2 separate regions of the Homo sapiens genome follow, and region 1 is linked to region 2. Evidence: fine-mapped expression QTL. A gene starts in region 2. The other region holds a variant in brackets. All regions are shown on one strand. Distances are between the middles of the regions.

Evidence for each region.
Region 1: its variant is fine-mapped to the expression of FAM216A in whole blood (TOPMed, PIP 0.91).

The regions. Positions count from the first base shown.
Region 1 is chr12:110,417,396-110,422,769 of GRCh38, forward strand. No RefSeq gene overlaps it. Among named protein-coding and RNA genes, the nearest start is that of ANAPC7, 16 kb to the left of the region's middle. The variant A/G (reference allele first, on the strand shown) is at 2,494.
Region 2 is chr12:110,466,137-110,471,510 of GRCh38, forward strand. It overlaps FAM216A (family with sequence similarity 216 member A), which reads left to right and starts at 2,709. Exons shown (of 7, transcript NM_013300.3): 1 at 2,709-2,882. The coding sequence starts at 2,740. It overlaps GPN3 (GPN-loop GTPase 3), which reads right to left and starts at 2,121. Exons shown (of 8, transcript NM_016301.4): 1 at 2,020-2,121. The coding sequence starts at 2,067. LOC124903016 (a long non-coding RNA gene) reads right to left here. Exons shown (of 3, transcript XR_007063459.1): 2 at 4,503-4,680; 3 at 4,153-4,315. RefSeq lists enhancers at 2,233-2,362, 3,283-3,452 and a silencer at 2,773-3,082.

The sequences.
Region 1 (5,374 bases), 49 kb before region 2:
TTTATCTGGAAAAGGTACCCTCTCCATATAAGAGCAAGAAAATAGCCCTTATCTCCAGAGACTTAAAACTAAAGGCTACAATGGACCTCCATAAACATACTTAACAAAGTTACCTTTACTTTCACCAGTTTGGCACTCCCCCCATTTATCTCCTAGTGACTCCCCTGAAAAATTTACTGCCCCAGCCAGATTTTCTTTGTCCTGTCATTTCTTCTCAAGTATATTGCTCTTTGTCTAAAACATATAAAGCATCTTATTTGGCCACTTCTTCAGACTTCACTCTTTTTTTTGTGTAGACCCCCCCGTACACGTGAAACAAAGTTTGTACACTTTTCTCTTGTTAATCTGCCTGGTGTCAGTTCGTTTTCGATCCAGCTCAAAAACCCACTAAGAGTTAAAAGAGGGGCTGGAGGTGATCTCTGGGTCCCTTGCAGTGTAGCGGGCTAATTTAGGAATCAGACCGACGGGTTGAGGAGGATACTTACTATTTAATTATTTAGGTGCACCAACCCAGTCGGATTAACATCCAAAGGACTGAGCCCCTAACAAAGAGTCAAGTTACCTTTTAAGCATTTCATGGGGCAGGGGGAGATCTGTGCAGGGGGAAGCATATTACAGAAGTGAGAAACAAAGACAGTTATTCAGTTGAGACATGCATTACATCATTTCTTTTTTTTTTTTTTTTGAGACGGAGTCTCGCTCTGTCGCCCAGGCTGGAGTGCAGTGGCGGGATCTCGGCTCACTGCAAGCTCCGCCTCCGGGTTCACGCCATTCTCCTGCCTCAGCCTCCCAAGTAGCTGGGACTACAGGCGCCCGCCACTACGCCCGGCTAATTTTTTGTATTTTTAGTAGAGACGGGGTTTCACCGTTTTAGCCGGGATGGTCTCGATCTCCTGACCTTGTGATCCGCCCGCCTCGGCCTCCCAAAGTGCTGGGATTACAGGCGTGAGCCACCGCGCCCGGCCGCATTACATCATTTCTTACTTTTCAAGGAAAAACATGTTTTACGACTTGAGTTTATCTATCTACTTACCTTGCAGCCACACAGCTAGAGAAACAGAGTCTTCACAATGCCTGGGAAAGGGAGAGATAAGGCTCACTAGCCACAGACAGAAAAACAGGCAGTTAATTTTTAAAGGACTCCACCTTTTTCTCTTCCTCAGGGGGAATTGGGTTTTCTTACATACAACTGAGTTTTTGCTTACACATTCTTTAATTTCTTTTAATTCCTGTTCCAGAAGCACTATATAAATGTTTGCTATTATACTTTTTTCTTTTCTTTTCTTTTTTTTTTTTTTTTGAGACGGAGTCTCGCTCTGTTGCCCAGGCTGGAGTGCAGTGGTGTGATCTCATCTCACTGCAAGCTCCGCCTCCCGGGTTCATGCCATTCTCCTGCCTCAGCCTCCTGAGTAGCTGGGACTACAGGCGCCCACCACCATGCCTGGCTAATTTTTTGCATCTTATGGAGAAATAGCCATAGCATTTAGCAACATGAAAGTCACTGATGATGTCAACAAGAACATTTTCAGTGGCGCTTTGGTAAAGAGAAGGAGACAAATGTGAGACAATGCATATAGATAATTCTTTTATTTTGAGATGGAGTCTTGCTCTGTTGCCCATGCTAGAGTTCAACGGCATGATCTCGGCTCACTGCAACCTCTGCCTCCCAAGTTCAAGTGATTCTCCTGCCTCAGCCTCCCCAGTAGCTGGATTACAGGCATGCTCCACCATGCTCCTGCTAATTTTTGTGTATTTTAGTAGAGAAGGGGTTTTACCATGTTGGCCAGGCTAGTATTGAACACTTGACCTCAGGTAATCTGCCTGCCTTGGCCTCCCACAGTGCTGGGATTACAGGCATGAGCCACCTTGCCCAGCCAATAATTCTTTTTTTTTTTTTTGAGACGAGATCTCGCCCTTTCGCCCAGGCTGGAGTGCAGTGGCACGACCTTGGCTCACTGCAACCTCCACCTCCTGGGTTCAAGTGATTCTCCTGCCTCAGCCTCCCAAGTAGCTGGGATTACAGGCATGTGCCACCTGCCCGGCTGGCTAATTTTTGTATTTTTAGTAGAGACGGGGTTTCACCATGCTGGCCAGGCTGGTCTCGAACTCTTGACCTGGTGATCCGCCTGCCTCGGCCTCCCAAAGTGCTGGGATTACAGGCATGAGCCACTGTGCCCGGCCAATTATTTTGAGGAGTTTTGCTGCAGAGAAGTGGTTCTCAACTGGGGTGGAGGCAGGGTGGTGACTGTATTCCTAGGGGACATTGGGCAATGTCTGGAGACATCTGAGGTGGGGTGGGTGTTGCTTCTGGCATCGGGTAGATAGATACTAGGGATGCTGCTAAACATTCTTTAATGTATAGGACAGCCCCCCACGGCAAAGTGGAGGAGAAATTTACATTCATGCCAGGCATGGTGGCTCACACCTATAATCCCAGCTACTTGGGAAGCTGAGGCAGGAGAATCACTTGAACCCGGAGGTGGAGGTTTCGGT[A/G]AATCTAGATTACACCATGGCACTCCAGCCAGGGTGACAGAGGGAGATTCTGTCAAAAAGAAAAAAAAAATTTTTTTAATTCATATATTTAAGTAGCCAGTCCAAAATGTCAAAGTGTCAATGTGGAGAAGCCCTGTTGTAAAGCAAAGGAGGACATGGTTGGCAGCAGGTGGGTGAAAGAGAGGATTTTTGTTTTCTGATTGGAGAAATATCATTTTTATATACTGATGGGAATGAAGGAGAATGTATCACTGGCTAACTGGTAGAAGAAAGGTTGAGACTGGGCACAGTGGCTCAGGTCTGTAATCCCAGCACTTTGGGAGGCCAAGGTGGGTGGATCACTAGGTCAGGAGTTCAAGACCAGCCTGGCCAATATGGTGAAACTCCATCTCTACTAAAATTACAAAAATTAGTTGGGTGTGGTGGCGCATGCCTGTAGTCCCAGCTACTCGGGAGGCTGAAGCAGAAGAATCGCTTGAACCCGGGAGGCAGAGGTTGCAATGAGCTGAGATCGCACCACTGCACTCCAGCCTGGGTGGCAGAGTGAGACTCAGTCTCAAAAAAAAAAAAAAAAAAAAGAAAAGTTGATAATTCCTGCAAAGAAATAGAGCTAAAACACACCTGTGAAACTGATAAACTCACACAAAGAATGGATGAAGCAAAAATATTTATAGAGAAAAAATTAGAGGCAAAGGGGGACCTACCTCCTCTGGAAATTTTATTTATTTATTTATTTATTTATTTTTTATTTTTTATTTTTTTTGAGACAGGATCTCCCTCTGTTGCCCAGGCTTGAGTGCAGTGGCACAATCATACCTCACTGTAGCCTCAACTTCCCAGGCTTAAGTGGTCCCTCCACCTCAGCCTCCCAAGTAGCTGGGACTATAGGCATGCACCACCACACCAAGCTAATTTAAAAAATTGAGTGTGTGTGGAGATGGGGTCTTGCTATGTTGCCCAGGCTGGTCTTAAACTCCTGGGCTCAAGCTGTCCTCCTGCCTTGGCCTCACAAAGTGCTGGATTACAGGTGTGAGCCACTGTGCCCAATTTTTATTTATTTATTTAGAGTTGTGTCTCTCTCTGTCACCCAGGCTGGAGTGCAGTGGCGAAATCATAGCTCACTGCAGCCTTGACCTCCTGGGCTCAAGCAATCCTTCCACCTCTGCCTCCTGAGTACTTGGGACTACAGGTGTGTGGTACCATGCCCAGCTAATCTGGAAATTTCAAAATATTCATCTTGAAAATCAATTTATCAAAGAGAGGGTAGGTTCTACGGTTAGGTCCCATTAATATGATGTAATTCAGATCATACTGATTTTGTTTTGTTTTGTTTTGAGACAAGGTCTGGCTCTATCACCCAGGCTGGAGTGCAGTGGTGCAATCACAGCTCACTGCAACCTCTACCTTTCGGGCTCAAGAGATAATCCCACCTCAGCCTTCCAAGAAGCTGGGAGTACAGATACCTGCCACCACGCCTGGCTAATTTTTTTTGGTAGAGACAGGGGTTTTGCCATGTTGCCAGGCTGGTCTTGAACTGAGCTCAAGCTGAAACAGGAATTAAAATAAATCAAAAAATGTTTAAACAAAAACTCAGTTGTATATAAGAAAACCCAATTCCCCTTGAGGAAGAGAAAGAGCTGGAGTCCTTTAAAATTAACTGCCTGTCTTTCTGTGGCTAGTGAGCCTTATCTCTCCCTTTCCCAAGCATTGTGAAGACCCTGTTTCTCTAGCTGTGCAGCTACAAGGTCACTAGACAGATAATCTCAAGTTGTAAAACATGTTGTTCCTTAAAAAGTATGAAATAATGTAATGCATGTCTCAATTAAATAACTGTCTTTGTTTCTTGCTTCTGTAATATGCTTCCCCCTGCACAGATCTGCCCCTGCCCCACGAAATGCTTAAAAGGTAACTTGACTCTTTGTTCAGGGCCCAGTCCTTTGGATGTTAATCCGACTGGGTTGGTGCAGCTTAATAATTAAATAATTCCTCCTCAACCCCTCAGTCTCTCTAATTCCTTAATTATCCCGCAGCAAAGTGATCCACCCGCCTTGGCCTCCCAAAGTGCTGGGATTACACACATGACCCACCATGCTTGGCCAGATCATACTGATTTTAATAATATTCAAAGGACATGTATGGTGTTAAAACAACTTGGGACACACAGGAGATATATCCAAGGAGACTAGGCCTCCTCTTCCTCATGGAATCATATTCAGAAAGGATAATTTTGGAGCTGGAGGGCGTGTTAGAGGTTATCTTCATTTTATGTGAGGAAACAGAAGTCCTGGGATGGTAATTGGCTGTGAATCGTTAGGTCAGCTGCGTAACAGATGTAGAATGATGTGGATACCGTGGAGTGTTGGGTCAAATACATTGGAGGAACAACTTATAAATATAAATGTTCTGCTCCACTTAAGTTCATCTCTAAATGTCCAGCAGCTTCCTAAGAATGAAAATTTTTCCCAGCTGCAATCAGACATTTTTCTTAGATCTGTCTTTTGTACAAGGGGAAAAACATAACACTTATAAATTGCTCTAAGGGAAACATTACTTAACATCCCTTAAGTGTCTCCTGGCAGTGATAGGTTTCCTTTCAGTGGAAAAATAACTTCAGGACAAAGAATTTCCCTGAACAACTGGAGGGAATAAATACCACCAGCATCCCAACCAATTTTCCCTCTTTTCAGTAAAGAAGGTTCTAAGATGTCCAGATGGTCATTTTTATTTATGAGATAGTCAGACAAGTAAAAAGACTTAAATAATGGTTTAGGGATAAATCTCAAGGGGATTTGTGATAAAATAGCAAATGGGTGACTTTTTAAAAGCACTCTGAAAGCAGGAACTCAGCTTGTATAACCATGTTCATTGCAGCATTCTTCAC
Region 2 (5,374 bases):
ATGTGTCTTATTCAGTTTCCCAAGCACAGGGACTAGCGCAATACCTAGTACATAATAAATACTTGATAATTGTTTCTAATTGACTTATTATGTTTAAAGATAAGCTCCACAAGGGCACGGATTTTGTGTGTGCATGTTTTTTTCCCCATACAACCCCCAGGGCCCAAAACAGTGCCTGGGATAAAGAACGTACTCAAGGAATGTTTCTGATAGTAAGCATCAAAAGCTTATAAAGATACTTGTTTAATACAATCAGCCCAAAAATTAAAATAGACTATAGAAAAAACATCCATCATGCTGTCCTCTCAGTGCCTTTACACATACTGTTGTCTCTGTCTGGAATGCCCTCTCCATACATCACACACTGTATCTTTTTTTTTTTTGCAAAGGGTCTCACTGTCACCCAGGCTGGAGTGCAGTGGCACCATCATAGCTCACTGCAGCTTTGACCCAGGCTCAAGCGATTCTCCAGCCTTAGCCCCCCGAGTAGGTGGGACTATAGGCTCTCGCCACCATGCCCAGCTAATTTTTGTATTTTTGGTAGAGACAGGGCTTCACCATGGTGCCCAGGCTGACCCTGAACTCCTGGGCTCAAGTGATCTGCTGGCCTCAGCCTCCCAAAGTGCGAGGATTACAGGCTTAAGCCACCACACCTGGCCACATCACACTGTATCTTAATTGACAGGTCATCTATTTGTCTTCCCCAAAAGACTACAGACTCTGGGTAAGTTAAAGGCCATAGGTATCTTAGTTACATGTACATGTTTTTACCCAGAATAAGTCAACAGCTTAGAACAATGTGTTTGTTAAAGACTGAGGCCACACAACACCTCCACAGACTCTAGTGTTTCCACACTTCTTCTTTTTTTTTTTTGCGACAGTACCTCTGTCACCCAGGCTGGAGTGCAGTGGCACGATCACCACTCACCACAGCCTCAACCTCCTGGGTTCAGGTAATCCTCCCACTTCAGCTTCCCGAGAAGCTGGGACTAGAGGTACCTGCCACCAGGCCTGGCTAATTTTTGCATTTTTTTGTAGAGACAGAGTTTCGCCGTGTTGCCAAGGCTGGTCCCAAACTCCTGGGCTCAGGCGATCCGTCCACCTCCATCTCCCAAAGTGATAGGATTACAGACGTGAGCCACCACGCCTGGCTATGTTTCCCACACATATGTTATTTGATCCATATCTTCACCATTCTCACTGTATTTGAATGTTCCTAACATTCCCTTAATATTTGTTTACAAGAAAAAATTTTATCCCTACTGTAAACTGAAAACCACTTATATTTGACATAACGTGAAATTAGACATAAAATTATATAAAATCTTTAAATGTTCTATTTTTAGCTAAATACAGGTGCCTATTAAAAGCTCTGAGACTAAGAACTGCTCTCTGAAAAGACCTGGGGATTAAAGAAGTGCTGAAGATACACACTAGCACCGAGCACAACTTCTCCTAAATGCGAAGTTGAGAACTGAAAGAGAAATGAAAAGGGAACAATTTCCCTAACACATTATCTGATGCTCCTTAATGTGGGGTCCATGTACCACCTACCACCTAAAAGCACCTTAAATACCAAAAGTCCATGTCCCAAGTTCTGAGAAACAGTAATTAATGAGACCCCACTTTACCCTCCTGGGAGCGAGACAGGGCCGGATTCTGGAGTTGAGACAAAACTGGATTTATATTTTTTTGCGGGGCAAAGAACTTAATTAACCTTTCTGTATCTCGTTTTCTGTAAAATGAGAAAAATGAGATCTCTCTCACAGGGTTGTTGTAGAAATAAGCGAGGCGTTTCATCTGCTGCCTGGGGCTTAAGTATACAATAAATATTAACAACTACCATTATTTCCCTTTCAAAACAACAACAAAAAAGAACGTGAAGCCAGACAGCAGAAATGAGTTGCGTGGGGTCTCAGGGTTCCCAGTACACACACCCGCCGGCTCACTCCCTCAGGACCCAATCTCCCGCCTTCCACGAACTCCTACTTTTCTCTCCTTGTCCCCGCAGATCCTCACCTTCCCGCTGCCCGCGGGGCCCATGACCAGCTGCGCATACCGAGGCATGTTGGCTCCCGGAGCCGCCCGCCACACTCCCTTAGCCTTCGCGCGACGCCCACTGAGCTCCGGGAAAGTGAAGTGCGAACCAATCGCAATCCACATTCTTTCTACGCCTCCAGTTCTACCACACCTCCTACTACGGGGCAGCCCGCGGGCCAAATCCCGTGAGAAACGCGTCCTGAGAAAAAAGGGGAGGGGCGAGGGAGAGGATTTGCGCGTGCGCAAAAGTAGTTGATGGAAATCGGCCGTTGGGATGCTGTCTAAGCTTGGATACCTGAGTAATAACGGACAACAGATAAAGCTCCGCATCCTTGCGCCACGTGCTTCGGTCCGTGGTTTGCGTGCAGACGTTTGACCTGTATGGTGACCCTCGCGATTTGCAAATGTGCTGAGGATCTGGAATACTGAAGTGGAAGGCACCTCTTGTTTTGGGGAGCATGTATATTTCCCTCCTGTGACGCACTGCTTCCACAGAGAGGTGCAAACGTGCAAACGCTCAGCGACCGCAGCGCTCCTGCCCCTCCCCCACCGTAACTCCGGGGTCGCGGATCTGCCCGCCCCGCTCTCCCGAAGCTGTTCGGGCAGTGTCCGAACGGCTTCGGAGGGGCGAGAAGCCAGCATCCGAGCCGCCTCTCCGGAATACCAGCAGCCTGACGCACGCGTGCTGTCGGGGGAGGGATGCTGGGACAGCTGCTCCCGCACACGGCTCGCGGTCTCGGCGCCGCGGAGATGCCCGGCCAGGGTCCGGGGTCCGACTGGACGGAGCGTAGCTCTTCTGCAGAGCCGCCCGCTGTGGCCGGGACCGAGGGTGGCGGCGGCGGGTGAGGTTGGGGGCCCCGGGGTAAGGGTGGCAGCATGGGGCCCCCGGGTCGTGAGGCCCCCGGGTCGTGAGCCCCGTGGAGGAGGGCTGCGGCCGACCTCTCGTCTCGGGGGCTGGCCCCGGTGCCCTCAAGTGAGAGGCGGGGAGCAGTTTTGTTGTGGACAGAGGGCAGAGGGGAGGACTGCCTCGCGGTTGAGGGAGGGTCTCTGAGGGAAGCTTCGGAGGAGCGTTTGGTGCAGTGGCCACGAGGTGACTGCGACAGTCGCCCGCGTGCATCTCTCTGCCCCGAGGGGGCGCTGCGAGCCCTGCTGGGACGTTTGCTGTCTGGCACAGGACTGTGTGTCCACCGAAAGGCGAGGCGGGAGGGACAGAGGAGGAAGATGTCCCCCGGTTCAACTGGGGGCATCCAGGCCCATAAACCAGTTCCTTCCCTCTAGTGACATGAGCCACCTTCCTGTCAAACGGGGATTTCTTTTTCTTTTTTTTTCTTTTCTTTCTTGTTTTTTGAGAGCGAGACAGTCTCGCTCTGTTGCCTAGGCTGGAATGCGGTGGTGCGATCTCAGCTCACTGCAACCTCAGCCTCCCAGGTTCAAGTGATTCTCCTGCCTCAGCCTCCCGAGTAGCTGGGATTACAGGCGCCTGCCACCACGCCCGGCTAATTTTTGTATTTTTAGTAGAGAGGTGGTTTCACCATGTTGGCTAGGCTTGTGTCGAACCCCTGACCTCAAGTGAGCCGCCCGCCTCGGCCTCCCAAATTGCTGGGATTACGGGGTGAACCATTGCGCCCGACCTCAAACGAGGATTTCTAATCGCCAATGAGACCAATGACTGAATATCCGAGGTGCCTTGATCTTGACATTTTCTTCACACTGAAGTTCCTTTTTTCACAAATCTATTTCGTTTTGAGCAGGTTTTTACACCTATTTCCTAGATAGTGAAGACAGCGAGCTGTTGAAGTCACTGCTGGAGACTCTACCTCCTCTTCCTCTCCCTACTTTATTCCCTAAAAGCAAGAACTGCGATATGTTTGCCGTTCAGTACAACCCGCAGTCAGGGCCCCTGTTGCACCCATGGCCATCCTTTTTGTTTTTTTTTTTTTGAGACAGAGTCTCGTTCTGTTGCCCAGGCTGGAGTGCAGTGGTGCCATCTCAGCTCACTGCAAGCTCCGCCTCCCGGGTTCACGCCATTCTCCTCCCTCAGCCTCTGGAGTAGCTGGGATTACAAGCGCCTGCCACCACGCCCGGCTACTTTTTTGTATTTTTAGTAGAGACGGGGCTTCACCGTGTTAGCCAGGATGGTCTCGATCTCCTGACCTCGTGATCCGCCCGCATGGCCGTCCTTTTTGTCTCTGGTGCTACTGAAGACTTCTTAAAGATGGGATGGAGTCTTGGGTTTCTTTTCTGTTCTTCACAGTCCTTGGCCGACTGCAGGATCCTGGTGTATCAGGAGATACGTGAATTTTTTTTTTTTTTTTTATTGAGACAGAGTCTCCCTCTGTCACCCAGGCTGGAGTGCAGTGTCACGATCTCAGCTAACTGCAACCTCCGCCTCCTGTGTTCAAGCAATTCTCCTGCCTCAGCCTCCCAAGTAGCTGGGACTACAGGTGTGCGCCACCACGTACCTGGCTAATTTTTGTATTTTTAGTAGAGATGGGCATGAGCCTGTAATCCTGGAAGGTTCTATTATGATCCCCACTTTATGGATGACAAAACAGGCACAAAGAGGTTGTTTGTCCTTTCCTTTTATCTCCGCCTGTCGTTCATCTCCATGCTTCCTTTAGTTTATCCAAACTCTTAAAACTACAATTAAAAAAAAAGACAGTATGCCCTTCAGTTTGGTTTAAGGAACCCCATTAAAAAACACAAACCAAGACTAATTTATGAAAAGCTTATATTCCCAGAAATACAAAATAAAATTTTCAAACTAGAATCAGGTTTATTATGCTACATGATACAATGTTGGCACTGGCAGGGGTCTTAAAAATCATCAATTCCGGTCATATTTACTAATCTGAAAGGGGAAGTGATCTGCCAAAAATCCCATTATTAACTAATGGGAACTCCGGAACTCCTTACTTTTTTTCTTCTTTTTTTTTGAGATGGAGTCTCGCTCTGTCACCCAGGCTGGAGTGCAGTGGTGTGATCTTGGCTCACTGCAACCTCCGCCTCCCAGGTTCAAGCGATTCTCCTGCCTCCTGAGTAGCTGGGACTACAGGCACGTGCCACTACGCCTGGCTAAGTTTTTGCATTTTTAGTAGAGAACGGGGTTTCACCATGTTAGCCAGGATGGTCTCGATTTCCTGACCTCGTGATCCACCCGCCTCGGCCTCCCAGAGTGCTGGATTACAGGCGGGAGCTACCGTGCCCAGCACTTTTTTTCTTTAAAGTCAGGTTTATTGAGGCATAATTTACACAAATTAAAGTCTTACTTTTTCATGTATAATATGATGGGTTTTGACAAATGCACATGGCTATGTAAGCACTGCCACACTAA